Linked DNA regions of Homo sapiens. The protein of the gene in region 1 purifies or fractionates together with the protein of each later gene. This does not show direct contact. Each region holds a gene or a part of one and is shown on either strand. Other genes may lie near its edges. The genes, in order: SLC9B2, DDX47, RP2, ENPP1, DHX37, ABCB1 and ALDH18A1.

The links.
Region 2: the proteins of SLC9B2 (region 1) and DDX47 purify together in Homo sapiens (affinity purification with mass spectrometry; one large-scale study listed by BioGRID and IntAct). This does not show direct contact.
Region 3: the proteins of SLC9B2 (region 1) and RP2 purify together in Homo sapiens (affinity purification with mass spectrometry; one large-scale study listed by BioGRID and IntAct). This does not show direct contact.
Region 4: the proteins of SLC9B2 (region 1) and ENPP1 purify together in Homo sapiens (affinity purification with mass spectrometry; one large-scale study listed by BioGRID and IntAct). This does not show direct contact.
Region 5: the proteins of SLC9B2 (region 1) and DHX37 purify together in Homo sapiens (affinity purification with mass spectrometry; one large-scale study listed by BioGRID and IntAct). This does not show direct contact.
Region 6: the proteins of SLC9B2 (region 1) and ABCB1 purify together in Homo sapiens (affinity purification with mass spectrometry; one large-scale study listed by BioGRID and IntAct). This does not show direct contact.
Region 7: the proteins of SLC9B2 (region 1) and ALDH18A1 purify together in Homo sapiens (affinity purification with mass spectrometry; one large-scale study listed by BioGRID and IntAct). This does not show direct contact.

The regions. Positions count from the first base shown.
Region 1 is NC_000004.12:103,073,962-103,078,184, forward strand, and holds the start of SLC9B2 (sodium/hydrogen exchanger 9B2), read right to left. Parts: upstream 2,801-4,223; 5' UTR 2,223-2,800; intron 1-2,222. UniProt on the Homo sapiens protein: Electroneutral Na(+) Li(+)/H(+) antiporter that extrudes Na(+) or Li(+) in exchange for external protons across the membrane. Uses the proton gradient/membrane potential to extrude sodium.
Region 2 is NC_000012.12:12,812,073-12,816,145, forward strand, and holds the start of DDX47 (probable ATP-dependent RNA helicase DDX47), read left to right. Parts: upstream 1-1,273; 5' UTR 1,274-1,295; coding exon 1,296-1,382; intron 1,383-2,058; coding exon 2,059-2,152; intron 2,153-4,073. UniProt on the Homo sapiens protein: Required for efficient ribosome biogenesis. May have a role in mRNA splicing. Involved in apoptosis.
Region 3 is NC_000023.11:46,875,043-46,878,542, reverse strand, and holds part of RP2 (protein XRP2), read right to left. Parts: intron 1,039-3,500; coding exon 953-1,038; intron 1-952. UniProt on the Homo sapiens protein: Acts as a GTPase-activating protein (GAP) involved in trafficking between the Golgi and the ciliary membrane.
Region 4 is NC_000006.12:131,881,020-131,884,519, reverse strand, and holds part of ENPP1 (ectonucleotide pyrophosphatase/phosphodiesterase family member 1), read right to left. Parts: intron 2,176-3,500; coding exon 2,046-2,175; intron 827-2,045; coding exon 746-826; intron 1-745. UniProt on the Homo sapiens protein: Nucleotide pyrophosphatase that generates diphosphate (PPi) and functions in bone mineralization and soft tissue calcification by regulating pyrophosphate levels.
Region 5 is NC_000012.12:124,979,132-124,982,631, forward strand, and holds part of DHX37 (probable ATP-dependent RNA helicase DHX37), read right to left. Parts: intron 3,493-3,500; coding exon 3,380-3,492; intron 1,708-3,379; coding exon 1,359-1,707; intron 1-1,358. UniProt on the Homo sapiens protein: ATP-binding RNA helicase that plays a role in maturation of the small ribosomal subunit in ribosome biogenesis. Required for the release of the U3 snoRNP from pre-ribosomal particles.
Region 6 is NC_000007.14:87,517,385-87,520,884, forward strand, and holds part of ABCB1 (ATP-dependent translocase ABCB1), read right to left. Parts: intron 3,493-3,500; coding exon 3,392-3,492; intron 2,083-3,391; coding exon 1,942-2,082; intron 1-1,941. UniProt on the Homo sapiens protein: Translocates drugs and phospholipids across the membrane. Catalyzes the flop of phospholipids from the cytoplasmic to the exoplasmic leaflet of the apical membrane.
Region 7 is NC_000010.11:95,646,712-95,650,211, forward strand, and holds part of ALDH18A1 (delta-1-pyrroline-5-carboxylate synthase), read right to left. Parts: intron 1-3,500. UniProt on the Homo sapiens protein: Bifunctional enzyme that converts glutamate to glutamate 5-semialdehyde, an intermediate in the biosynthesis of proline, ornithine and arginine.

The DNA.
Region 1 (4,223 bases):
ATTCCTCTTTGCCACTTATTGGCTAAGGAGTGAGCATGATTCATTTCTTGCCATTGGAATTTGTAGGCAAGACTATTGGGGCATATTACATAAGATTTTCCTTCTTAATAAAGACAGAGAGAGAGGAGGAAAATCCTCTCCTCTTTTTGTCTTTAAATGACCAGGTAAAGAGGCAAGGGAAGTTGGGATTGTGGATGGGTTTCTTGGGACAATTCTAGCAGCCATCATTCACCCATGAAGAAAAGTCAAGATTAGCTGAACACAGAAAGCAACATAGAGCCCTGATATTACTGAGCTACTGAACAAACCCTGGACCCACCTACCTTCAAACATCTTCATGTATGAGCAAAGTACATCTGTATTTTTGAAGGGAGTTTTGGCTGAATATCCTGTTACTTGCAGCCAAAAGCATCCTAACCAATATAACAGGTGATTTTGTTGCAGAACCATCCCTGAGAAGCCCTGATGAACAGCAGTGATGAGGAACCTCTGTCTTACAAACTTTAGTTTCTATCTTTCTAGCTTCTTGTTACAGTGCAAAATCATCATAGACAATGAATGATCAGAACACTGCCTTTGTATTGAAATTTCTCAAAAATGTCCAGAAAATAACATTTTATAAAGTTAAAAATTAGTGCCAAGGTTTTCACTGCCATTCTTTTAGTCAACAGAAATTATTTGGATTGTAAGATTATGTATTTCCCCTCCTCTACCCTGAAGTTAAATTGTAATATTTGAATACTGAATGAAGAAAAGTTGGACTTATAAACGTTTGGTTGTTTTCCAAATTTCCACTCATGAAACAAAACAACAACAATAAAATATCACTACTATTGCTGCCTGGAGTTTCATTTCTGCTTTTTCTACTTGAAGAAATTCAAAATCTAACTCAAATGTCACCTTCTCAGTATTTCCTAACTCCAACATTGACAAACTGTCTCCCTCGTTTTCCTCTCTGATGATTCATTCATTCATTCAACAAACAAGAGCTATTAAGCTCTTGTTACGTCCCAGTCCTTGAGCTGAGGATTCAGAAGTGAACGGTCTTAAATAGTTCCTATATTCAGATCTTGTAATCTAGTTACAGGATGATAAAGGATGATAAATGATTCCTAAGCAATCACAATGAAATATGGTTAAGTTTCAACTTTAGACACATAACAACCCCATCCCTTAACAAGTTTCATTTCCTTTTTTTTCTTTTCTGAGATGGAGTCTTGCTCTGTCACCTAGGCTGGAGTGCAGTGGCACAATCTTGGCTCACTGCAACCTGTGCCTCCTGGGTTCAAGCGATTCTTCAGCCTCAGCCTCCGGAATAGCTGGAATTACGGGCGTGCACCACCATGCCCAGCTAATTTTTATATTTTTAGTAGAGATGGGGTTTTACCATGTTGGCTAGGCTGGTCTCGAACTCCTGACCTCAGGTGATATGCCCACCTCGGCCTCACAAAGCCTTAACAAGTTTCTCTGGTGTGATAGGCACAAGAGTAACAAAGATGACTAAGATGCAGTCTGCCCTTTAAGGGATGGTCAGAGACTGATATGTGTTTACCAAAATCGTTTACTCTTCTGCCTGGGTCCATAGTACATTTCCAGTCTCCCTTGCAGGTCAGTGTGGCATGTGACTGAAGTCTGGTCAATGGCATGTGGACATAAATAGTATGTGATTTCCAGTCCTCACCCATAAGAAACAATCCTCATGCAATCCTCTAGTAGCTTTTCTTTTTCTGTCCGTTGCCTGGAAACTAAGGACTCCAAGGTCTTAGGGGATAGCAAAGCCATAATATAAAAGGAGTTTGGGTTCCTGAATAATTGAGTAGAAGGCCAACAGCTGAACACGTGAATGGACTTGACATGAACGAGAAATAAGCCTGAACTATGTTTAGTTACTGAGATGTTTTACTTTATCTCTTACAGCAGCTACTGCTGTCTTAAGGTTATATTCTTCAGTCAATAGCATACGATGATTCTTAGCACCTCGAGGATGCTAACCCAGTCCACAAAGGCAACACCCCCTCTGGTTAATCTGAGAACTAAAATAAAAGCAAGCAAGAAAACCCACGCCAACACCTTACAACAGTAAACAGACACGCGCCCGTCACCGGGTGTACAAACAGAAAAGGCTGGGCCCCTCGCTCGCGTCTCCGGTCCAGCAGGCCTACAGGGTACCCGCCGCTGGCGCTGGGTTTATTTTTACCCTTAGTGTCTCTGGGGCCTCTCACCTGGCAGTCTCCGGCGAAGTCGACCAGGCTCCGTCTGAACGATTAGGAAAGGGGCTGTGGGGGAGGCGGCGGAGCCCGGTCTAGCCACCGCGCTCTGGGGTTCCCGATTCGCGCATCTTCCCAGGCTGAGCCGGGAGGCTGCGTTGACTGCAGATAAACGGTCTCAGGGCGCGGCACCGCGTGTAGTCGGCCCCGCCTTTCGCACGAACCCGCTGGGCGACACCGCGCAGGGAGGTCCGACCCGTCGGCGCCGGTACAGGCTCCGGAGTAAGCATGGGTTGGTCCGGGGCCCGCAGCGGCAGCCCCGTGTGCCCTCCGCCGGGTTTCAGGTCCGGCGGCGCGGGTGCAGAGCCGCGTGCGATGCCTGGTGCGCGTGGCTTCCCCCGGAAAGGTGGCGCCAGGCCGACCATGGGCCCACGTCCCGGGGCCTCGGAGCGGCACCGCGCGGTCTTTCAGCTGCTTATCCTCCCTGGGCGGGTCCGCAGGCTTCTGGGGCCAGGACCAGCGAGCTCCCGGGAAAGCTTCCCGGAAAGCTTACCCAGAGAGCGCGGACCCAGGCGCCGAGTCTTCCCGGAGATGACGAGACACCGCGAGAGGAGCACAGCGCAGGCTCCTCGGGACTCCGCGGCGCAGGCCGGGCAGCCCGTTACTTGTTTTATCGTTCCCGAAACCAACCTCTAAGTTGTCTATCAGTCCTCCACCTTTTAGCTGTACCTCTTAGAAGTGTCTTCTCAGCTGCGGTGGGAAGATAGGATTCTTTCTTAAGGTGACCAATTAAATGGCCGGATAAAAGACTTGTTCTGCCCCCCTTTATCGCTTAACACCTGCCCTTCTTGTTGTATTTTAGATTTTTAACCCTTCTATCAGCAGTGTGATTCTATTTCATTTAATTCTCATTTCATGTTTGTGTCTTCCTTTTCTCTGTATTTCCTCTTGTGTGTGTTAAGACGCGCGCACCCCTTACCTGTTTTTCACTCCTGTAAGCAAGTGCCAATCTTAATCACCGCTTTTCAAGCAAGGGAGATTATCCTCAAATTTCTCCACCAGTCAGAAACCATTCATTCTTGTCTCTCAGGTCCTCTTTTGTGATGAACCTATTGGATAGGTTCCATCCAATACCCTTCTTCAGATCATCTGAAATGATTATTTTCCTAAACGGAACTCTTCCTCTCCTAAAGCTTGTAAAAATTTCTAGTGACATTCAGCTTCCTCTTACCACAGGAATGACATATATTTTTCCTTTTAGTCATATGTACTTCATTAATATATCACCTGATTTGATTAACATGACTTTGGAGAACATTGAATTTTTTGGCTAGATTTTACTTCGTTTTTATTGCTGATAGTGTTTATAAAAATGTTTTATAGTTTATGGTCGGCTGTGAGAAAGACTAACTCAGATCATTTGTTAATGTTGGAGCCCATTTTGTAGAATTCGTTGTGCATTTATTTAAAATTTATTTGTTCATAGCTATACATATATTATACATGTATACCTGCTCACAGCATAAAGTATTTCATGACATACTTGTAAGAGTCAGTGTTCTATGAATTCACTAGAGAAGTTACAGCATTTTGATTATGATACACGAAAAGAAACCCAAGTCATTTAGCTTAACTCCTTAATTTCATAAACCAGAAAACTAAAATCCAAGATAGATTGGGTGACTTGGTCTAGATCACAAACCAAAGTTAGCCATAATTCGGTAGTGTAGTGCCCGGTCCAAAACCTCATAGATAATCTTATAATCAATGGACTCTTTCTGAATGCTAGTCAAAATGTCCTTTTGTGTGAATTTTAATGTACCGTCATCAACTGCATGATATTCTTCCCCATACACAAAGTGTTATCTTTTTGTTGTCCATTTCAGAATTTTCCATGTTAATATTAAAGTTCTAGGAAAAAAGGCTAAGAATCACTGCACATTTATTGAGTATCTCAGTGTGCATCATACCATTTGGTCATTTGAGGTTGCAACAAGTAAAAAACAAACATAAAAC
Region 2 (4,073 bases), on another chromosome or scaffold:
AAAATATTTCAAGTGTATCTTCTGTTGGATGTGTTTTAGCAGAATGTGATATCTGTGGGCCTATATTTTAATATACTTGATATATTTTATGCTTTTCTCACTAAGCACTAGGTTTTTCAGATCTAATCATATTGTTAAGGGCATGTTTGTAGACACCATGTTCACATTTTAACTATGCATTTTCCCAGTGACGGACACCAGATTGCCCCCAACTTCCCATCCTCAGGAATAAAACTGCAACGAGCACCCTGCGCAGTGTGAGACCCAAGTGACAGGCCACAGGAGGGCACTCGCTGGCCATGGGGCATGCAACATACAGCTCTGAATTTGCTGCTTTCCAGAATAGCCTTAGTAGCTTCACAGTCTTGGTACTTGGAATTCTCTCACTCTGGAATGATTATCTCCTGGGATCTTAAAGCGTTTTCTCCTGCTCAACAGTGAGGTCTTAACTCAAATATCACTGTCTCAGAGAGGCCTTCCCAATCTCACAGTTATCCCCACAACCCACCCTCCCCAGGTTACTCTGTAATTTTTATGTGAACAGGGTTTCACTCTGTTGCCCAGGCTGGAGTACAGTAGCACCATCTCCACTCACTGCAGCCTCAACTTCCGGGGTCAACTGATCCCTCAACCTCAGCCCCCTGAATAGCTGGGATTACAGGCGCATGCCACCATGCATGCCTGACTGATTTTTGCATTTTGCAGACACAGGGTTTCGCCACGTTGCCCAGGCTGGTCTCGAACTCCTGGGCTCAAGTGATCCGCCCGCCTCGTCCTCCCACAGTGCTGGGGTTACAGGCGTGAGCACACCCAGCTACTTTTCACAATTTGAAATGCTCTGTGATAGCTTATTTATGATCTGTCTTCTTTTTCTTCACGAGGGCAGGGGTCGCTGTCCTATTCACCAGCCATCTAGCATAGCCTTAGCAAATGGTAGGTTCTCAACATTATTGAATAAAGTAATGACATAATAAAAAAATAGTATTGTAATATCAATCCGTTCCAAACTCTATGGTTAGAAAAGCGGGGAACATAACTGGCGACACACGTAGGGAAGGCTCTTTAAAAGGGACCTAAAGGTCAACTGGAGTCCCTGGTGATCAGCCCCTTCTGCACTCGGATCTATTCCGCAAGCCTACGCGCCCATATTCACTGGGCCCCACCTGCCTAGCGGACGGGTGCAATCCCCGGCAAGCCCGCAGGGGGCGCGCAGAGCACGTCGTCCGGGGAGAACTAAAACTACATTTCCCAGCATCCCGCGCGCCGCAGACCCACTTCCGGAGACCTCACACAAGATGGCGGCACCCGAGGAACACGATTCTCCGACCGAAGCGTCCCAGCCGATTGTGGAAGAGGAGGAAACTAAAACATTTAAAGACCTGGTGAGAATGGATGACGCTGGCTTCTTTTATGTACTCTGGTGCTAGGCTCAGGGAGACCCCAGGTACCTTAGATCCCGCTCTGATAGTGTACAAAAGCATCTTGGGGCCTAGCTTGGGTTTTCCCCAGAATTTCAGAGGGCTGGGTTTCGGACGTGCTCTGAGTTTGGGTGGTGGGAGGGCTGCTGGGCCCTGAGACCCCCTATTTGCCCTATTCGCCACTTTAGTGTGGCAACGTTTGTATGTGCATCCAGGAGGTTGTACATATGGGGAATGGAATTGGTCTCTTTATAACTGGAGCTTTGGAGTCAGATGAACCAACCAGATTTGAATTTTGACACAGTCTCTTACTGAGGACAAGTTGTTACCTCTCTGTGTTTCTCTTTCCACATCTGTAAATTGGGGATAGTAATAAGTACTTACCTCGCAGAATTGTTGTGACGATTAAATGAGATGATACATGTAAAGCACCTGGCCTTGGCCTTGGTGAGCAGAAAGTGTTCGTTAAGTCTTGAGCTACTGTCTCATGGTATAGTTAAAGAGTAGGCTCTGAGATGCACAGTAAATACCTTTTAAATCAAATACAATGGTTGTACATGATGGGTCTGACAGTCAGTTAAGTAGGAGGGAGGTAGGGGTGTGCTGTTCTTGGCTAAGGTATATTTTTCTGAATTCCAAGGGTGTGACAGATGTGTTGTGTGAAGCTTGTGACCAGTTGGGATGGACAAAACCCACCAAGATCCAGATTGAAGCTATTCCTTTGGCCTTACAAGGTAGGTTGTATGACTTCGTACAGATTTAATATAAAGTTATCTCAATTAGATACCCCTTTTGAAAGCTGTTGCTTGCATACTTCAAGTGAAATAAGGATATGGTCACTAAAGGTACAAAGTTTGGGTAATGGTATTTGAAAATGTCATTCTCCAATTTTACTGAGCTTACTTTCTGTCTTAATAGCTGAAAGGGTTTGTTCTCTGCCACAGATGCTGACTTTAAGGAAGCCCTAGGTTAAAGTTAAAGTATATTAACGACAATCTTGGTAGACTTTATGCATCAGTGGGCGCACACTTAGGGAAGGATGCCTGGAACACATATGTGTGTCTTGAGGAGTTGAGAATTCTTGCTGTGAGCCATGTTTATCAGATTTGTAAAACAGTGGTTAAAGCAGATTGATGGCTACTGGAACTGAAACTAATGGGATGAACTTTTTTCTTTTTGAGATCTTTTTTTTAAGATGGAGTTTTTTTTGAGATAGAGTTTCGCTCTGTCGCCCAGGCTGGAGTGCAGTGGTGCGGTCTTGGCTCACTGCAACCTCTGCCTTCCAGGTTCAAGCAACTCTCCCGCCTCAGCCTCCCAAGTAATGGATTACAGGCGCATCACCATGTCCGGCTAATTTTGTATTTTTAGTAGAGATGGGGTTTCAGCATGTTGGCCAGGCTGGTCTCGAACTCCTGACCTCAAGTGATCTACCTGCCTTGGCCTCCCAAAGTGCTGGGATTACAGGTGTGAGCCACCACATCTGGCTGTAACAGGATGAACTTTAATAGGAGTAGAAGTAAAGTCCTGCTCTTAGATTCCTAAAGTACCAACTTTACAGGATTAGGGTGGGTGATAAAAGAGGCCCAGAGGTCTTAGTTAACTGAAATCTATTAAGATCCTCAGAGAGAGTGAATGTAATCATAGCAATTGTTATAAGAGGGGTAATGTGGCTAATTATTGTTAGTATTAATGTAGCTATTACTGTATTACTATATTATTAGTGATTAATGTAAGCTATAATTATTACTCATTAGTAATTAATGTAGTGATTATTATTGATAATAATTGAAAGATTTAATGATTTGAAGAGCTGTCATGTGGAAAAGGGGTTAGACTTACTCTACAAAATTCCATTTGCTCTTTCCATAAATAGTTACTATTTGTTGTAAATGTAAGGCACTGGAGGTTAACAGTCTGTCCTCTCCAAGAGTCTATAATCTATTAAAGAGATAATTATAAATTTATTACAAGTTGAACAGGGACCTAAGAAAGTTACATTCAGAGTGCACTGAGGGAGAAGAGATTACTTCTAATTAGGATGGATTAGAGAAGATTTATTTCATTTTATTTTTGGCTGGGGAGGTTGGGAAGACATGTGAGCTGAACCTTGAACACTGACTTTAGAAGGATTTAGACATTCAGATATGATGGGAGGGGAGGACTTTCTAGGCATAGGGAACAGCATGAAAAAAAGCCAACTGGAAAACATGGGCATGTATGGAGATTTGCAAGTACTTAGCAGAGTGGTGAAAAAGTTTAGTAAGGTGATTGGGGCCGGATTATGAAGGATTTGAGTGCTGGGTCAAGGAATTTGGTCTTCGTTTCATAGGCAGTGGGGCATTTTTGGAGATGAAGGATTTAGAGTTGTACTCTTGGAAGATTAATCTCATAGCTGTGAAAGATCATTAGAAACAAGAGACTGAGTCTGGGAAACCAATTAGTAGGTCTTTGTAATGATTTTTGCAATCAATAATGGGTAGGGTGGTGGTAGAATGAAAAAGAAAATGTTGGAAAAAGAATCATTATGATTTTACAACCAGTTAAGCAAGTGGAAGGCAAGGAAGGGGTGGGGAAAATCTAAGTTTCTAGGCTGTATGTTTAGGGCATATTATTGGTGTACCACTGATACAAAAAAGGAACGGGGGAAAAATGCAG
Region 3 (3,500 bases), on another chromosome or scaffold:
ATGTCCTCCCAGGTATTTATCAAAAAGTAGTCAATTATAGATTTGCTAATGTAATCCTCTATGTTTGGTTTTAAATTTATTTATGTCTGCAATTCTTAGATACAGCAACTTCATCAATATATTTAGAAAATGCCTACATGTGATGATTTCTTTTTTTTTTTTTTTTGAGACAGAGTCTCGCTCTGTCGCCCAGGCTGGAGTGCAGTGGCGGGATCTCGGCTCACTGCAAGCTCCGCCTCCCGGGTTCACGCCATTCTCCTGCCTCAGCCTCCCAAGCAGCTGGGACTACAGGCGCCCGCCACTACGCCCGGCTAATTTTTTTTTGTATTTTTAGTAGAGACGGGGTTTCACCGTTTTAGCCGGGATGGTCTCGATCTCCTGACCTCGTGATCCGCCCACCTCGGCCTCCCAAAGTGCTGGGATTACAGGCGTGAGCCACCGCGCCCGGCCTACATGTGATGATTTCTATGTATATCTGAAGTTCAATTTTTGGTGAAGCATTACTGAAGCAAGTAAAAATGAACCCTGGGCGTAAAAATGAACCCTGGGCAACAGAATCGTCCATCTAAAGACTATAATCTTAGAAATAAAATATTTTCAACAAATCAGTATTTTTAAAAATGCAAAGACTTGAAAAGACATTTGATGAGACTTTTTACTTTAGAAACATATACTATAGAAGGTTTTTAATAAATAGATTCTTATTTTGTAATTATTTTAAACAATTAAAGTTTAGTTTGGCAAGAAAAAAATCACAGCTTAGTTCCCAATTATTTATCAAAGGTTCTAAAAATCATGATCTGCTTTAAACACACACACACACACACACACACACACACCCCAAAAATTCCAAGCAACATTAGGGACAAAAGTATTAAAGTATTATTTGACTGTAAGGAAAAGGAGATGAAATGAAAAGTTAGATTGAAATACAGTCAATAAAATCTTGTACCTTGGTCCCATTGAATATCTCGTTTACAATAAGTTGACATACTTCTACAGCACCATCCCCATTAAACTCCAAGGCAATAACAGGACCTATAAGCAAACCCAAGAAACATTTTCTTAACACAAATACAAATATATTCTAAATTTAATCTTTTTATTCTTCCCTGAAGAATCTCCAGCATCTTCTTTGAGGGTGAAAGAGAAGGAAGAGGAAAGCAGACAGATGGGACATATCACCTCAGCTGCTTCTTCCTACGCTAATCATAAAACAAATTAACACAGTCTCATAACAAGTAGCTTCAGTACTATTATAGGACTAGTGTCACATTTTTAAAGTGTTGTAAATAGTCTGGCTTTTCTGGTTCTCATTCTTCTATAAAAACCACAGAAATTCTACTCATTTAGGAGTATAAAAATAGTTGATAAAATAGCAAATAAGATCAAAAGCAATCCAAGTCAACATAAGTAGGTTTTGCCAGGCAGCCAGCCTTGCTTCCAACTCTCCTACTTACCAGCCAAGTTCTAGGCCACCAATAATGAAGCTAAGCCAAATAAGAATTGAGGCCAGGCACCAAAAGTGATGACCATCTGAAAGTATTTTCCTTGAGTGTGTCTTAAAGCTACATTCTAGAAACATAGACAAAGTTTTTATTTTTTAATCCTTTTAATAGAATATCTGTGCCTCCTTTCTCATACATTAATTTGAAAACATTAAAAACCTCCTACAGTGATGGAAAAGTCTTGATCTCCAGGAAATTACAAATGTATTGAAAGAAGACATAAACCCATTAAACAAATACAAACCAACACAGAATAATGAAGTACGAAGTAATGAAATACTAGAGTGAATGAATATGAAACACTAAATTGAATGTAACCGTGTGCTGCAGTACAAGGTACAAGAATGAGAAAGAAAAGGTTACACTACATTGGGCATCAAGATAACTGAAGGCTTGTGATTTTTTTTTTCTTGGAGGCTTGTGATATAATACAGGCAACAAATACAGAAAAGGCAGGATATAGTGGTCCCTAGGTATCTGCAAGGATTGGTTCCATTTGTTGCTCAAATCCCTTATATATTAATAAAATGGTATAGTATTTGCATATAACTTATGCACATCCTCCTGTATACTTTATTAAAAATGTATTAAAATTTCTTTTAGAGATAGAATCTCACGGCTGGGCACAGTGGTTCATGCTTGTAATCGTAGAATTTTGGGAGGCCTAGGCAGGAGGATCACAAGCCCTGGAGTTGAAGACCAGCCTAGGCAACAAAGCAAGACCCCGTCTCTACAAAAAATTAAAAAATTAGCTGGGTGCAGGGTCACAGGCCTGTAGTCCCAGCTACTCGAGGGACTGAGATGGAAAGATCACTTGACCCCAGGAGTTTGAGGTTATAGCAAGCCATGATCAAGCCACTGCACTCTAGCCTGGACAACAGAGCGAGACCATGTCTCAAAAAAAAAATAGATATGGGGTCTCACTATGTTGCTCAGTCTGGTCTCAAACTCTTGGCCTCAAGCAATCCTCTTGCCTTCAGCCCTGGCCAGGAGTTCAAGAACATATTGTAATAAAACATCTAACCTTACAAAAGAAAAGCTTAAAATCTTAAATTTTTATTTAGAAATATCAATGTAAACTCATGATCTTTTCCTTTTTAAAAATACATAGTTTCTAGCTATGTCCACTGAAAAAGCTTAAAAGAAATGACAACCCAGTAATACATAGCACCTAACATGTATTTCTAAATATCATTCCCCACTAAAAATAACTAAGTAATCTTAGAAAAATAGATGATTCCATGTCTGGGGCAAGAAATGGATTAAGGTCAATGTGGAATATTTTCTTCAGCCAAAAAGTAATGAAGCTATCAAAGGCCAGTGGGGTTCTATCAAAAGGAGACAGAAGCCAGCCTGAAGGGGCTCCCAATGGCCAAAGATGAGACATAGTGAAACAGAAGGAATAATGACTCTGATTTATTAAAATTAATATATAAAAAGTCATGAGTTCATAATGATACTTAGAGAGATCCTCCTTACTACCAGATATTTTTAAGGAAAATAAAAAAAGAAGAGAGAAACAAAATTCACTGTATACCAATGGAGGTTGCTAGGGCACCAATTCACTACTCTGAAAATTGATGCTTATTTTTCTCTTTATTTATTCTGCTTTTCTGACATGAAGCATATTTCAAGTTAACCAAACAGCTCTGGCATACGAGGAGTTCTGTTAACATCTGTTAATAAATGCAGAGGTAGTGACAAGATTAAAAAGTAAGTTTGCTAAAAAAAAAAAAAAAGAAAGAAAATACAGAAAACAGTCATTTTGCAACGCCTATTAAAACAATTGGTTCAGGCAACAATCATCAATGGTTTTAGCATCCCACAGAGAAGACTGCAGGAAACTCTACAATAAAAAGAGAAGGTCGTCACCGTGTAAACCCAACCATTAAATCTTAGTATCCCTAAAAGTACAACAATCAAACATTATGTGCCTTCTCAATTAATGCAACAGGAAACAGTACCATCTATGTATTCCTGCCAAAAAAAATT
Region 4 (3,500 bases), on another chromosome or scaffold:
GGACTGCAAGCATGAGCCACCACACCCAGCCTTGGCTCTAATCTTAGTGTGAGGCCAAAAATTCATTGTTCAGCTTTGGCCTTTGAAAGGACTCACAGACAAACGTTGAACCCAACTCTCTTTGAGACATCCCTGAACAAGTACATCATGTTGAAATTGTGATCATATGTCATCATTAAGCATAGCAACATCGCAAACACAAACAAGGCATATTATTCCGATTTCCTATTAATATCTGAATATTAACTTTGAAATATTCACAAGTATTCTAGATATAAATTAGACTAAAAACTCCTTATATGCTTATATTTTGATATTCTATACATCAATTTAAGTAACTAAATTTTTATTCCTGTAAAAGTCAAATGCTGCAATAGTTAATGATGATGTAAAATCTATTCATTTGAAAACATAGACAATTATCAAGAACTTCCAAAAAGTTAAATAAGGAAGCCGAATGAAAGTTAATATAAGTGTTAGCAGACTGTATTAGCTGGATAACTTTAGGAAGCGCATCACATACTTTCTCACCAAAACTGTTTGCAAACAATTATACAATTAGAATACATGATAATTCTAATAATTTGTAGAATTTTTGTGTACTAGTATTCTCAAAGTTAAACCTTTAAGAATGTATTTGGTATTAATTCATTTAATTTAGACCATAAGTCCTATTACATATGAATTATGCCTATATGTGCACAAATTCATTAAAATTATCAAATATAGAGTTAACATTATTTACCTTGAAAACTCTGGTACATTGGCACTATATTTGTAGTAAGCAAAGCTTCAGAATATATTCCACTTGAATTTTTATTTAGTTCTACAAAGAGAAAAGAGGACAACTTTTTCATTCTTCACAAATAACATAGGAAATTATAGTTTCTCATGGTTAGGGGAGCATTTTTAAAAATTAGCTGAGTACCATCTTAAACCTGTAAAACTTTCCCAAGTACAGGGTCAAGGGAAAATGTAATGTGTTTGGTCAAGTCCTTTACAAAAATAAAATATTTAAGAAGTCTTTTCAAGATGAGCATGTCAACGAAACATAAACTTTAATAACAAGAGCCCCAAATTAAACATATTCAAACGTTATTGCCCTCATTTCAACTAAAAGGAATTGTGTTGACAATCTTCTTTCCTTACACTTTTTCACAGTGAAAAGAAAAAAGAGAACATCTGGCTCCAGAACAACACCTGCTACCCAGAAAAAACATCACAGGATGTCTGTCTCGAAACACCATACAAGGCTTCTCTGTATGAATTTGAGGCTTGGACCTGGTCTATTTTTATAATGCAATAGCCAAGTTCTGACTTCAGACACATACTCTGGGAACTGAACTGGATGCTGACGGTAGTTGAGCACCTGGAGCTTTCTGATTTTTGCCTTTTAAGGCTGGCCCCAAAATGGCTTCTCATCAACATACAAATTTGCCATTTCAAAAAATAGAATACTTAGCTTCAAAAAAGCCATTCCCTAGAGATTCTGGATCAGTGAAAAAGCAAGCATATGTAAGCCTCTACCTTTACCTACTTCTCTGACAAACGCATTTTCTTTTTAAACAACAAAGTTATTTATCCTAACAAAGTTATCTTCCTAAGAACCTTGATATATTCTTCCAACTTGATATATATATTCCACCTTCACAATATTCTCAAATTGTTTAAAAGAAATGCAGAAAGGAACCATGAAGTGTTCTGCTTACCATATCTGCACTACATCAACTACCCTCCCAACAAAAAGAAAATTTTATAAAATTCAAGTTTTAGATGATTAAAATTTTTCCCTTGGTAGTTCTAGACCAAATCCACAATTTTTCACCAATAAATAAACAAAGCTATATATATATAGCTATATATATATAAAATAGTAATATATATACTTTATATATATTATATATATAATATATATATAAAATAGGTAATATTTATATATATATAATAGGTAATATATATATTACCCTATAATGTATGGTAGGATTTATAAACAAGAAAGAAAACAAAAAGGAGAAAAGGGAAGGTCAGGAGAGGAAAAAACTTACGTGGTGGGGAGAGGAACCCGTAACTCACTTTGGTGTTATTTTTATAAAATGAACATTTATGGACAGGACTAAGAGGAATTCTAAAGTCCTGGTACAGACAGTTGGAGAAGTCTTCCGTAGAGAAACTGTCCTGAAGAACGAAAATGAGAAGAACTCTCAGATATCAGGCACAGAGAAGAAAATTGCTTTATTAATATTTAAAGGTGAACTACATCATAAAATTATGAAGCTCTAGCTGTCAGCTCATGTCCTTCCCTATTTTCCTACTAGTATATTCATCTTTTTTTCTAACTAAAGTGTAAAAATGCTTTACAATATTAAAGATATTAATTGTCATATTTATGCAAATATTTTCAGATTCTGCTATGCTAATATGAAATAATGTTTAGAATGATTTTATCTACACAATTTTAAATATTTATTTATTTATTTATTTATTTATTATTATTATTTTTTTAAGATGGAGTCTCACTCTGTCACCCAGACTAGAGGGCAGCGGCGCAATCTCGGCTCACCGCAACTCTGCCCCCCAGGTTCAAGCGATTCTCCTGCCTCAGCTTCCCGAGTAGCTGGGACTACAGGCATCTGCCACCACGCCTGGCTAATTTTTGTGTTTTTGGTAGAGATGGGGTTTCACCATGTTGGCAAGGCTGGTCTTGAGCTCCTGACCTCAGGTGATCCATCCGCTGCAGCCCCCTCAAAGTGCTGGGATTACAGGTGTGACCCACCACGCCTGGCTAATTTTTTGTATTTTTAGTAGAGACAGGGTTTCACCATGTTAGCCAGGATGGTCTCGAACTCCTGACCTCGTGATCTGCCCTCCTCAGCCCCCCAAAGTGTTGGGATTACAGGCGTGAGCCACCGCGCTGGTCAATTTTAAGCTTTTATATAGTAAAATGTTGATTTTTAGAGATCTGAGTCTATCTTCCATAGTCAACTACACTGCCAAAAGTTGCTGGAGCAAAGGAGGACAGTCACCGAACAGCAATGTAAAAACCTCAAGCATCGCAATGACTGTAAAGTTATGCATTTTAATTACATAAGAAAACTGAAAATGGAATCAAGGAACCCATAATTAAGGTATAAATATTAATAAATAGGATGGGGTGCCTATGAAAAATGGTGTAGACTGATCAATTACAAAGTCAAAAATTTTTTTAAGTGTTTGGTGTTTGAAGACAGTATTGAAAAATTTTAAAAATCAAAGTTCAAGAAATTTTATATAAATATATGTGTGTATTATATATTTGTAACATAGAAATTATATATAAACAGACATATCCCTATCTTTTTATTTGGTTGTCTCACTGATTAGTAAAAATCATTTTATTTTTTAAATCAAACTGCTGCCCTCCACTATGCTCTCTCAAATCCCTTTGTCGTTCCCTTAGGGCATCCTGTACCTTGCCAGTCACTTTCAGTTTCAGCCCAGTTTAAAATTTCAATTCCACGTAA
Region 5 (3,500 bases), on another chromosome or scaffold:
CTGAGTTTGGGAGTTGCCTGAGCTTGGGAGTTCAAGACCAGCCTGGGCAACATGGCAAAACCCCGTCTCTACAAAAAAAATACAAAGTTAGCCAAGCGTAGTAGCGTGTGCCCACAGTCCCAGGCTCTTTGGGAGGGTGAGGCAGGAGGGTCACTTGAGCCTCGGAGGCGGAGGTTGCAGTCAGCTGAGATCAAACCTCTGCACTTTAGCCTGGGTGACAGAGTGAGACCCTGTTTCAAACGAACAAACAACAAAAACAGCAGTGAAGATAACAGCAAAAAGCTAAAACAACCAACTATCCAGCAACAGAATACTCATCCTGCGCTATATTCACACCGTGAATACTCGATAGCAGTGGGGAAAAAGTAAATGAGCCTCAGCTGCCTGCATCAACATGGATGTATCCCAAGATATAATGCTGAGTAACAAAAAAGCAAACTGGAATAACGTAAAGGACATGATGCCACTTTTAAATACAGGCAAACCTACGGTATGTATTGCTTAGGAATATGGACAGGATACGAATAGGGAAAAATTCACAAAGAAAAGCAGGAACTGAAGTCCCAAGGGATGGCAGGGACACGGGATGGAGGAGGCCAAGCCCCTGAGTGACCGCGCGGAGCAGAACCCCACACCCTCCTTGCCACCAGATGGCACTGGGTGATGACATCACCTAGAAGCAAACGTTTGTGGTGTGAAGCCACTGGCACTTTGGGGTCATTTGCTAGAGCGGTCAGCTTACCCTGATGAAGACTTATAAAAGCAGAAAAATGTACTTAGAAGCAGGATCCCAATTCCATTCAACGGCCAACATTACTCCTCTAGGGATCCAGAGTTCCTACGTGGGCTGTGGGCTTTCCATGCCCCAAATCCTTTCATTGTCATCACAACCCAGTGAGACACTCATTGTACCAGGAAGGAAACAGGCACAGAGAGGGGGAGCCCCTTCAGTAGCCGGAATATTCCCATTTTACAGATGCGCGGGAAGTGAGCTGGAGAGCAGGGGAATCAGCACTTGATTTCGGGTCAACTGATTCACAGCCCAAACTCTTGTCTGGATCGGGGCAGCCCAGGCCAGGCCCGCTGGTCAGAGGGCAGTGGCGATGAAGCTACTGCCGCCGACCTCCAGGGCCCCGAGCCTGCCAGGCGTGCCGCCAGACACCCGCCCTGCACTGTGATCCTCCTCGCGCACCAATCCCTGCCACAGCCTCAAGGGAGGCGCAGTCACTCTCCCCTTTCCCAGATGGGGACATGGAGGCACAGAGAAGGGATGCCCTTGCCCCACTTCACCAGGACGCCCTCTGTGCGCCCCTTGCCCGCTAACCTAGATTCTTAATCACAAACACGGGGTGGCGAACCTGCATTTCCGGGGAGCGGTTCACGGGGATGAAGACGGCGGGCTTAGCCAGGGCCCTGGGCAGTGGTGGGGCTGCAGCTGGAGGAGGAGGAACAGTCATCCCAGCCGGCACGGGCTGACTGCTGGGTGCTGGAGCTGGCGGCAGAGGTGCCACGGTGGTCCCCACACCAGCCTCAGCCGGCTCAGCAGCTGGGTCCTCGTCCAGCTCCGACTCCTCCTCCAGCTCCGATTCCGACTCCTCCTCCTCCTCCTCCTCCTCCTCAGCTGAGGGCCAGCGGCGACGCTTCCGGTGGGCACCGCTGAGGCTACTGATCTTCTCCTGGCCCGGGGCTACCACCTCGTCAGCCTTCCTGTTGAGATAGCAGAGACTTCAGGCACAGAGGCCCCACCTCAATCCCAGAGGTCAGGACTCCAAGGCCATACCCCTTTCTGCCTCAGGGACTTTGCACCTGCTGTTCCACTCCCTGAAATGCCCTTCCTGCAGATACCTCCTCTCACTCCACTTAAGCCTCTGCTTAAGCACTAGCTGTCAGGGAGACTCCCTGACCACACACAGACCCCACATCTCACCCTTCTCCCTCCACCTCGCTCTTCCCTGCTTCATTTTCTGCTCAGTGCTTCCCAGCGTGGGACACAGATGCACTCGCCTGATGACTTCCCACGATTACATCTCCCGCCATGACACTGGGAAGCTCCTTAAGAGAAAGGACTTTATTTCTGTGCACTGCTCTATCCCCAGGGCCTAGCAGAGAGCCTGGGACAGTCTCTGCACTCGATAAACAGTCACTAACTGACAGTGCTCACAGGCACCAGTCAGGCCTCATGTAAATGAGCAGCACAGGCTGAGGAGACCACAGAGTGGGGTGGGACTGGGTGGGAGGGGCACACAGGCCATTTAAGGGTCAGCAGCTTGGTGGGGACACTGCTGGTGTGGCCGGATCGTCCAACTAGTCGAGACTAGGTGGGAACATGAATTCACCTTGTCGCCCAGGACGGAGTGCAGTGGTGCAATCACGGCTCACTGTAGCTTCAACCTCCCAGGCTCAGGTGATCCTCCCACCTCAGCCGCCAGAGTAGCTGAGACCACAGGCATGAGCCACCATGCCCAGCTAATTTTTGTATTTTTAGTGGAGACAGGGTTTCACCATGTTGGCCATGCTAGTCTCAAACTCCTGACCTCAGGTGATCCACCCGCCTCGGCCTCCCAAAGTGCTAGGATTACAGGTATGAGCCACGGCACCCTTCTGGCTTGGTTGTTCTAAGCCACCGCTGTTTGCAGTAATTTGTTATGGCAGCGCCAGGAAGCTAACATATTGGCAAACAGCACTCATGCCTTAAAAAACGACACAAACCAGTCGGGCGCGGTGGCTCACGCCTGTAATCCCAGCACTTTGGGAGGCCGAGGCGGGCAGATCACCCAAGGTTGGGAGTTCGAGACCAGCCTGACCAACATGGAGAAACCCCGTCTCTACTAAAAATACAAAATTAGCCGGGCTTGGTGGTGCATGCCTGTAATCCCAGCTACTTGGGAGGCTGAGGCAGGAGAATCGCTTGAACCTGGGAGGTGGAGGTTGCGGTAAGCTGAGATCACGCCATTGCACTCCAGCCTGGGTGACAAAGCAAGACTCTGTCTCAAAAAAAAAAAACAAAAAAAAACACGACACAAACCAAACCAAACCCGCTGATGGGCCAAATCCAGCCCTTGACCACCTAATGGCAATTTCTGGCCTAATCAGCTGCACAAAAGCTGGAAGAGCTGTAACAAGGGACTCTACACCACAGGAAAACACCGACATCACTGGAGCGAGAAACTTTGCTGTCCTGTGTGTCGCAGAAGGTTCAGCAGCATCTGTGGCCTTTACCCACTAGAGGCATTTAGGATGACAATGAATTTTCAGCCACTCAGGCCACCATAAAGGTATTTTCTCAAATGTTCCACCCCCAGAGGACCCCATAACCTGTGCGCCCTCCCTAGGGGGCCCTGGAGGGAGGGCAGGGTTAGCAAAGGACTGGCCAACTCACTCTTTGGTGTGATACATGCGGTTCCCAGTGCCTAGCTTGGAAGTGGTATAAAAGAGTCTCATCTCAGCTTCGGAAGCCTGGACTTCACTCAGCTTCTGTAGCATCTCTGCTCGCTGGGAAA
Region 6 (3,500 bases), on another chromosome or scaffold:
TTCTGCCACTGTCTCAAACCCAGGATAGCCTGCTGGAGGATGAGGCACACATGGAGGAGAGCTGTCTGAATCCCAACCAACCAGCTACAGACACAATCCACTACAGACACATGAGTAAGTCCAGCCGAGATCCACTATGCCTAATCCAGATCAGTAGAACTTCACAGCTAACCCATAGGTTTGTGGGCAAAAATATGTATGTCTCTGAGGTTTAGTGGCTGGTTGTTACACAGCATTATTGTGGTAATCAACAACGGATACAGTCAGTGATGTTGGAATTACATCAGATTCTTAAAAACCTATGAATTGTGCAACCAAAAGAAAGTTTCTTACAGAGCCAGATATCATGTTGCTCTTAAGATGCATTGACGTTCTTATCTATGACATGGGAATCACAGCAACTTAAAGTTGGGAAGGACCTTACAGGTATCAAGTCCAGCTCTCCATGTTCGTGCCTGGACACCTCCCCTAAATTGGCTTCCATCCTCTGTTTTAGGAAGTAGCATGTTTGATTGTCTATTGTTAAACAGTTCTTTTTCAAACTGAAGAAAAAATTTACTTCCTTTTACATAAGACAGGCCTACAAGTCTTGAAATATTGCTAAAAACTCCTTTGCTTCTTTGATAACTCCTTTCACTGCCCTTCTCTAGACACATTTATTAATATGCTTTTTTTAAACACAAGCCTGGAACAGACATAATACTTGGGAACCCGCCCAGAATACAGGGAATTCATCGCTTTCTTTCCTCTGGACTCTATGCCTATGTTTGTGTAGCATATTGTGTCATTAGTTTTTGTTTGTTTGTTTGTTTAACTAGCACTAAATAAAATACCGATAGTTAATCTTGGACTTGTGATCATTTAAACCTATGGGACCTTTTTCTAATGCACTGTTCTTCAGACAGGTCTTCCTTTTCCTTAACTTGGAAGGTTGATTTTGCAAACCTAAATGCCCCAATGTCAGCAACTTTCATCAATTCAATTTTTTGGAGTAAAGCAATATATCAAATAATTATCTAATCAAAGCCCCAATGCCAGTGATACTTGGTTTTGATCTCTAGGCCATAATCACAAATAGCACCTGCATATCATTTGTCCAATGTACATCTTTAATGGAAATTTAGATGTCTTTTTGGGGGTCATCCTGAGCAAACTGTAATGCATGAACAACTCAATGTTTAAAAAGGACAGAAATACTATACTAACACATTATACTGCCAGGCTTATATGATTCTGGTTTAAATATAAAATTATATCGCTACTAATTATGTTATGCTATCAAGAGGCAGAATCTTACCCACCTCCAAATCTAGAAGCTCAGAAAGATTACACATACTTTTGACCACCAAATTGCATATTTGGGTACTTTTGTAGTATAATTGCTTCAGGCTTATCTTCCTCTGACCGAGGTACAATTATCTACATTCAGAACAATGTAGCAGAAAAATCCCAATATAACTTTTCCTTTGTCATTTCTGAATTCATTTGGCTCTTACCTTCCAATTCCTCTCTTATCAAGGGAAAGTAAACATATCCTGGAATTGCCAAAGGCTTGCAGAACTTAGTACAACACATCTGTATTTTACTTGCTCTGTAAGAAAGTCCTTTAAAAGGAGCCAGTCAGACTCCTTGCTCAGGGCTAGGCTTCTTCCCAAATGCCAAGGCCTTCTCAAAATCTCCGAATGGAATCACTCCACTCAGTCACAGATTTGAAAAGGTCAACTATGTGTGAGCCAGCAATGAGGAAAGAAGTTACTGCTCCTCCAAATGAAAGGGGGTGCTTCAATGGTGGCACATGAAGACTCAGAGGCAGAAATGCCGATTTAGGAATCACCAGAATCTCTTCATGAGGCTTCACAGTAGGGTTTCCTATCTAGACATGAAGCATGTTCATCCCAGCTTTATTTTTAGAGCTTAACTAAATAATAGCCCAATACTTACAACAGAACATCCTCAAAGCTCATGAGTTTATGTGCCACCAAGTAGGCTCCAAACCGGAAACATCCAGCATAGGAAAAATACATCATTGCCTGGGTGAAGGAAAATGTAATTCCAAAGATGTGTGCTTTCCTCAAAGAGTTTCTGAAAAGAAGACATTTGAAAACTCATTCCACTTTCATTTCTCAGTCCTTAAAATGTAACTTTTGATAGGTTGGCAGTAGGGCACAGAGGCATGACCAACAAAAATGGGTTTCGTTTCCAAAGAACTAAGTTTGGTCCTCACTTTACACTTAACAGTTGTGCAAATTTGGGAAACTGCCTAACCTCTGAGACTCAGTGTCTTTATCTTTAATGTAGAATTAACTACACCTCAAAGTGTTGATGTAAAGAGAAAATAATCCAATGACTGTAAAGAGCCGGTTAGGGATCAATAAGTAAAAGTTATCTCCCTTTCTCCCCACTTTTGGACACACAGTATGGAAGTACTCTACGTAAATATTCATTCTGCACACAGTTACCCAACACCTACAAGGTGCAGGGGCCATGATGGGTTGACATAGAGGAAACAGGCATGTTCTTGACTTAGGAGACCTGACTTGAGTTGAATTACTATTTATGCATTAGAGGTGCCTTATGAATAATCTGTTATAGGAAGAAAGGAGAAGCACTAAATTCTTCGGGGGTCTCAGAGAAGGCTTTAAAAAGGGGTTGACATTCTAGAATCATGATATGGATCCAGCTCAGTGATATGGAGGTGTGGGTGGGGGCAGGTTAGCAAGTGGGCAGCCCTGGGCTTCCAACCCCTCCTGCTACCAGATCAACTCTGCTTTTACCTTCATCACATATGAAGATTTCAAATAATTTTTTTTTAGACAAAAAGGCTCTACCATCATTTTTTTTAAATAAAAGCTTAAAAATCCATCAATAAAGTCCAGCTTTCCTTTTATTATAAGAAACAGACTCAGAAAGGTTGGGCTTGCTTATGTTCACACCACTTATTAGAGCCCTCACTGGGATGACTGTATTAAAGGAAGAAGGTCTGCACTGGAGAAGGGGTAAAAAGCAGAAAGACAGGTAAACCCAGGAAGCACCATCCTCTCTGTGTCCCACAGGTACCTCAAATTTCAGGTTCCATAAATAACTCATTTTCAACTAGAGCAAATTATAGGGTCATATCCTACCTGGACATCAGATAGTCATTCTCAGCATCATGTCTCCCTCCCTTCTCATCAGTGACCCATTCTTACAGGTTCTACCTCAGAGATGTCCCTGCCTTAGTTCAGGGTCTTGTACTTTCTCTCCTGCATAATTACAACTGTTTCTCAATGGTTTACCTTCGAGCACTTTCTCCACTTGCTCCCTACCTTCTAGCCAAAGTAATCCCTCTGAAAACAAATATGATGATTGAAAAATTATTCACACTCTCCTCCCACTCTTCAGCGGTTATTACCTGTATGGTACCTGCAAACTCTGAGCATACATATGTTCAAACTTCTGCTCCTGAGTCAAAGAAACAACGGTTCGGAAGTTTTCTATTGCTTCAGTAGCGATCTGTAACA
Region 7 (3,500 bases), on another chromosome or scaffold:
CCCATCTTCTAAGGAACTTTTAGGCTCTAAGTTCCAAAGAAAATCTGTCCCCTCTTAGTAGGTATGAGGGCATACTGAAGTGTATGTGTGTACAGATGTGGCATGGTGGGGGATGGGAGGGGTTGTCCATGTTCTTCTTAAGGGCCACGGATTATACTCTTACCACTCTGACAGAGGAGAACCCTTTACTTCTTCAGCATCAGAATCCTTATGCCCAGTAACCAATGAGGCTGTGTTCCAGGCCTCAACAAGAAGGGACCCAGACATGACTACTCTTTTTCTCTCTGGCCTTCCATTGCCTTCTCTGTTTATCTCCACAAGCGTTCTCATTTTGCCTTTCTTTTCTTTTTTTTTCCCTCTGCTATTCTGCTTATCATGGTCAGTGAAAGAGCTCCACGTTCCAGAAAAATCCAAATCCCCAAATTCAAAAACCTAGGGAAACAATTAGAAAGTGCCTCCTTCTGTGAATGAGTCTAATGAGGATAAGTATCAATAAAAATACTGAAGTGAACACTTACTATATACCAGGAGTTGTGCTAAGTATTCATACACCTTCTACAGGAGTAAAAAGGACAAGTGTTGGCTCTGGAGCCAGACTGCCTGAGTGAAATTTCAACCCCTTCACTTACTTGCTGTCTCCTTAACTATCTCATAAGGTTGGTAGGGTGGATAAAACAAGTTCATGCATGAACAGAGATTGGCACAAAATACTCAATGAATATTAACTGGTACTGTAAAAAAAGTGTTACTTACTGTGACATGACATATATATCCATGGTCCCTGGCTTATAACTCTAATAATCCTTTTTACAGTCTTTTGTTATAATGTTGGTGTAAGGAAACAGAATCTCTCTGGTATTCTCCTGAACTCCTTTCACCTACTCAAGGCAGGACTCTAATTTGATTGTGGGTTGTAAGACCCTCAGTCCAGAGAGGGTCCTGCCCCATACCTTGGAGGAAGAAATATTGCACAGGAAGACCAAGACAAAATCTGAACAGACAGGCCTTGCTGGGTTACCCCACTCAGTCTATTAGTATCAGGTCACATTCTTTTTGTTCAATCACATTTCGACACAGTTGCCCATGCTTCAATCATGCCTATCCAATAAGTCTCCATAAGAGGTCCAAGGGGACAAGGTTCGGAGAGCTTCCAGATGGCTGAACATGTGGAGGTTCCTGGAGGGTGGCGTGCCCCGGAAGGGCATGGAAGATCTGTGCCTCTTACCACACACCTCACCCTACATATCTCTTCATCTGTTTCCTTTGTAATAAATTGGTAAATCTAAGTGTTTCCCTGAGTTCTCTGCATCACTCTAGCAAATCAATCAAGCCCAAAGAGGGTACTGTGGGAACCCCAACTTGAAGCCAGTCAGTCAGAAGTTCCAGAAGCCTGGACTCAGGACTACTAGGAAGATGGGGATGATCTTGAGGGACTGAGCCCTCAACCTGTGGGCTGTCCTCAGGGAGACAGTGTCAGAATTGAATTGGAGGATACCCAACTGATGTCCACTGCAACCCCGTACATTTGGTCACAGAAGTCTTCTGTGTTGATTGTTGTTATGGAGTGAGAGCAGAGGAAAAATAGTTTGAGCTTTTCCATATTCTACCTTCATCATCATCATCATCATCATCATCATCATCATCATCATCATCTTACTGAATTCTCATGAATTAAGCCTCATAAGTTAGGTATTATTATGAGTTCATTATTATTATTATCCCCATTTTATAAATAAGGAAACTGATGCTCAGAGTAACTGAGTAATTTACCAGCATTGCCAGATTACAAAAATGGCCACAATCCTTTTGCAGCTTCTCCATTAACAGGTGAGTCAATCTTCCAAACTTCTTAAATTTGAGCTGGCCCCGTAACTTGCTTTGACAAATGTGGCAGAAGGAACAGTGCATAAATTCTGAGTTTACATCTCAAGAGGACTTGTAGCTACCATGCTTCCTGTTCTGGGGACCCTGCAAGCATCATGCAAAGCAGCAATGAACAGCCTGCTGGAGAATGAGAAGCCACAGGGAATGTACATGATGTATCATCCCAGCAGAGGCCCCTTCATCCCCAACAATCAGCCCTAAGTCAATCTGAGACCTGACACAGACACAGAACCACTGTGCAGCTGAGCCCAGTCCAAAATACCATCCCACAGAATTGTGACCTAAACAGACAGTTGTTTTAAGCTACGAAGTTACTTCATAAGCAGAAGGGCTAGTTTTAAAAACCCAGGAACTGGTTCCAAAACCTGAACTTTCAGCCCTTATACTCTACATTAATAGGAAAGAGATTTTTCTGTCTAATGACAAGCTTGATTAGTTGATTGGCAAGTCATCTTGCAATGAAGCTTGGAAATGGACTACTGATAAGATTTAGGTGATATCAAGGAGCTAGCCAACTCAAAACATCACAAACAGCCTTTCAACAAATGATGCTGGAACAACTAGTATTAAAAGTTGAAAGATGAACATTGACCTAAACCTCACACCTTATACAAAAATTAACTCAAAATAGATCACGAAGTTGGGTGCAGTGGCTCACACCTGTAATTCCTGCAGGTTGGGAGGTCAAGGTGGGAGGATCTTTTGAGCCCAGAAGTTCGAGACCAGCCAGAGCAACATAGACTCCATTTTTACAGATTTTTTTTTTTTTTTTTTTTTGAAACGGAGTCTCACTCTGTCACCCAGGCTAGAGTGCAGTGGCGCTATCTTGGCTCACTGCAAGCTCCTCCTCCCGGGTTAATGCCATTCTCCTGCCTCAGCCTCCCAAGCAGCTGGGACTACAGGCACCTGCCACCACACCCGGCTAATTTTTTGTGTTTTTTAGTACAGACGGGGTTTCACTGTGTTAGTCAGGATGGTCTCGATATCCTGACCTCGTGATCTGCCCACCTCGGCCTCCCAAAGTGCTGGGATTACAGGCGTGAGCCATCAGGCCCAACCAAAAAACTTTTTAAAAAATTAAATGTGCCAAGACTGGGCAACATGGCAAAACCCTGTCTCAACAAAAAATATAAAAATTAGCTGGATATGGTGGTGCACGCCTATAGTCCCAGCTACTTGGGAGGCTGAGGCAGGAGAATCGCTTGAGCCTGGGACGTTGAGGCTGCAGTGAGTAATGATTGCACCACTGCTCTCTAGCCTGGGTGACAGAGTGACACCCTGTCTCAAAAAATAAAAAAAAAAAACAAAGAAAAAAATTAGCCAGCTGTGGTGGTGCAACCCATAGTCCTAGCTACCTGGGAGGCTGACATAGGAGGATCACTTGAGCCCTGGAGGTTGAGGCTGCAGTGAGCCTTGATCGTGCCACTATGCTCTAGCCCTGGGTAACAACAGAGCAAGATCTTGTCTCAAGAAAACAAAAAAAAAATGGATCATGGATTTAAGTATAAAATATAAAACTATCGAACTTTCGGGAAAAAAACATACGAGAAAATCTTCAGAATACGGGGTTATACAAAGAGTTCTTAGACTTGACCCCAAAAGTACAATCCATAAAA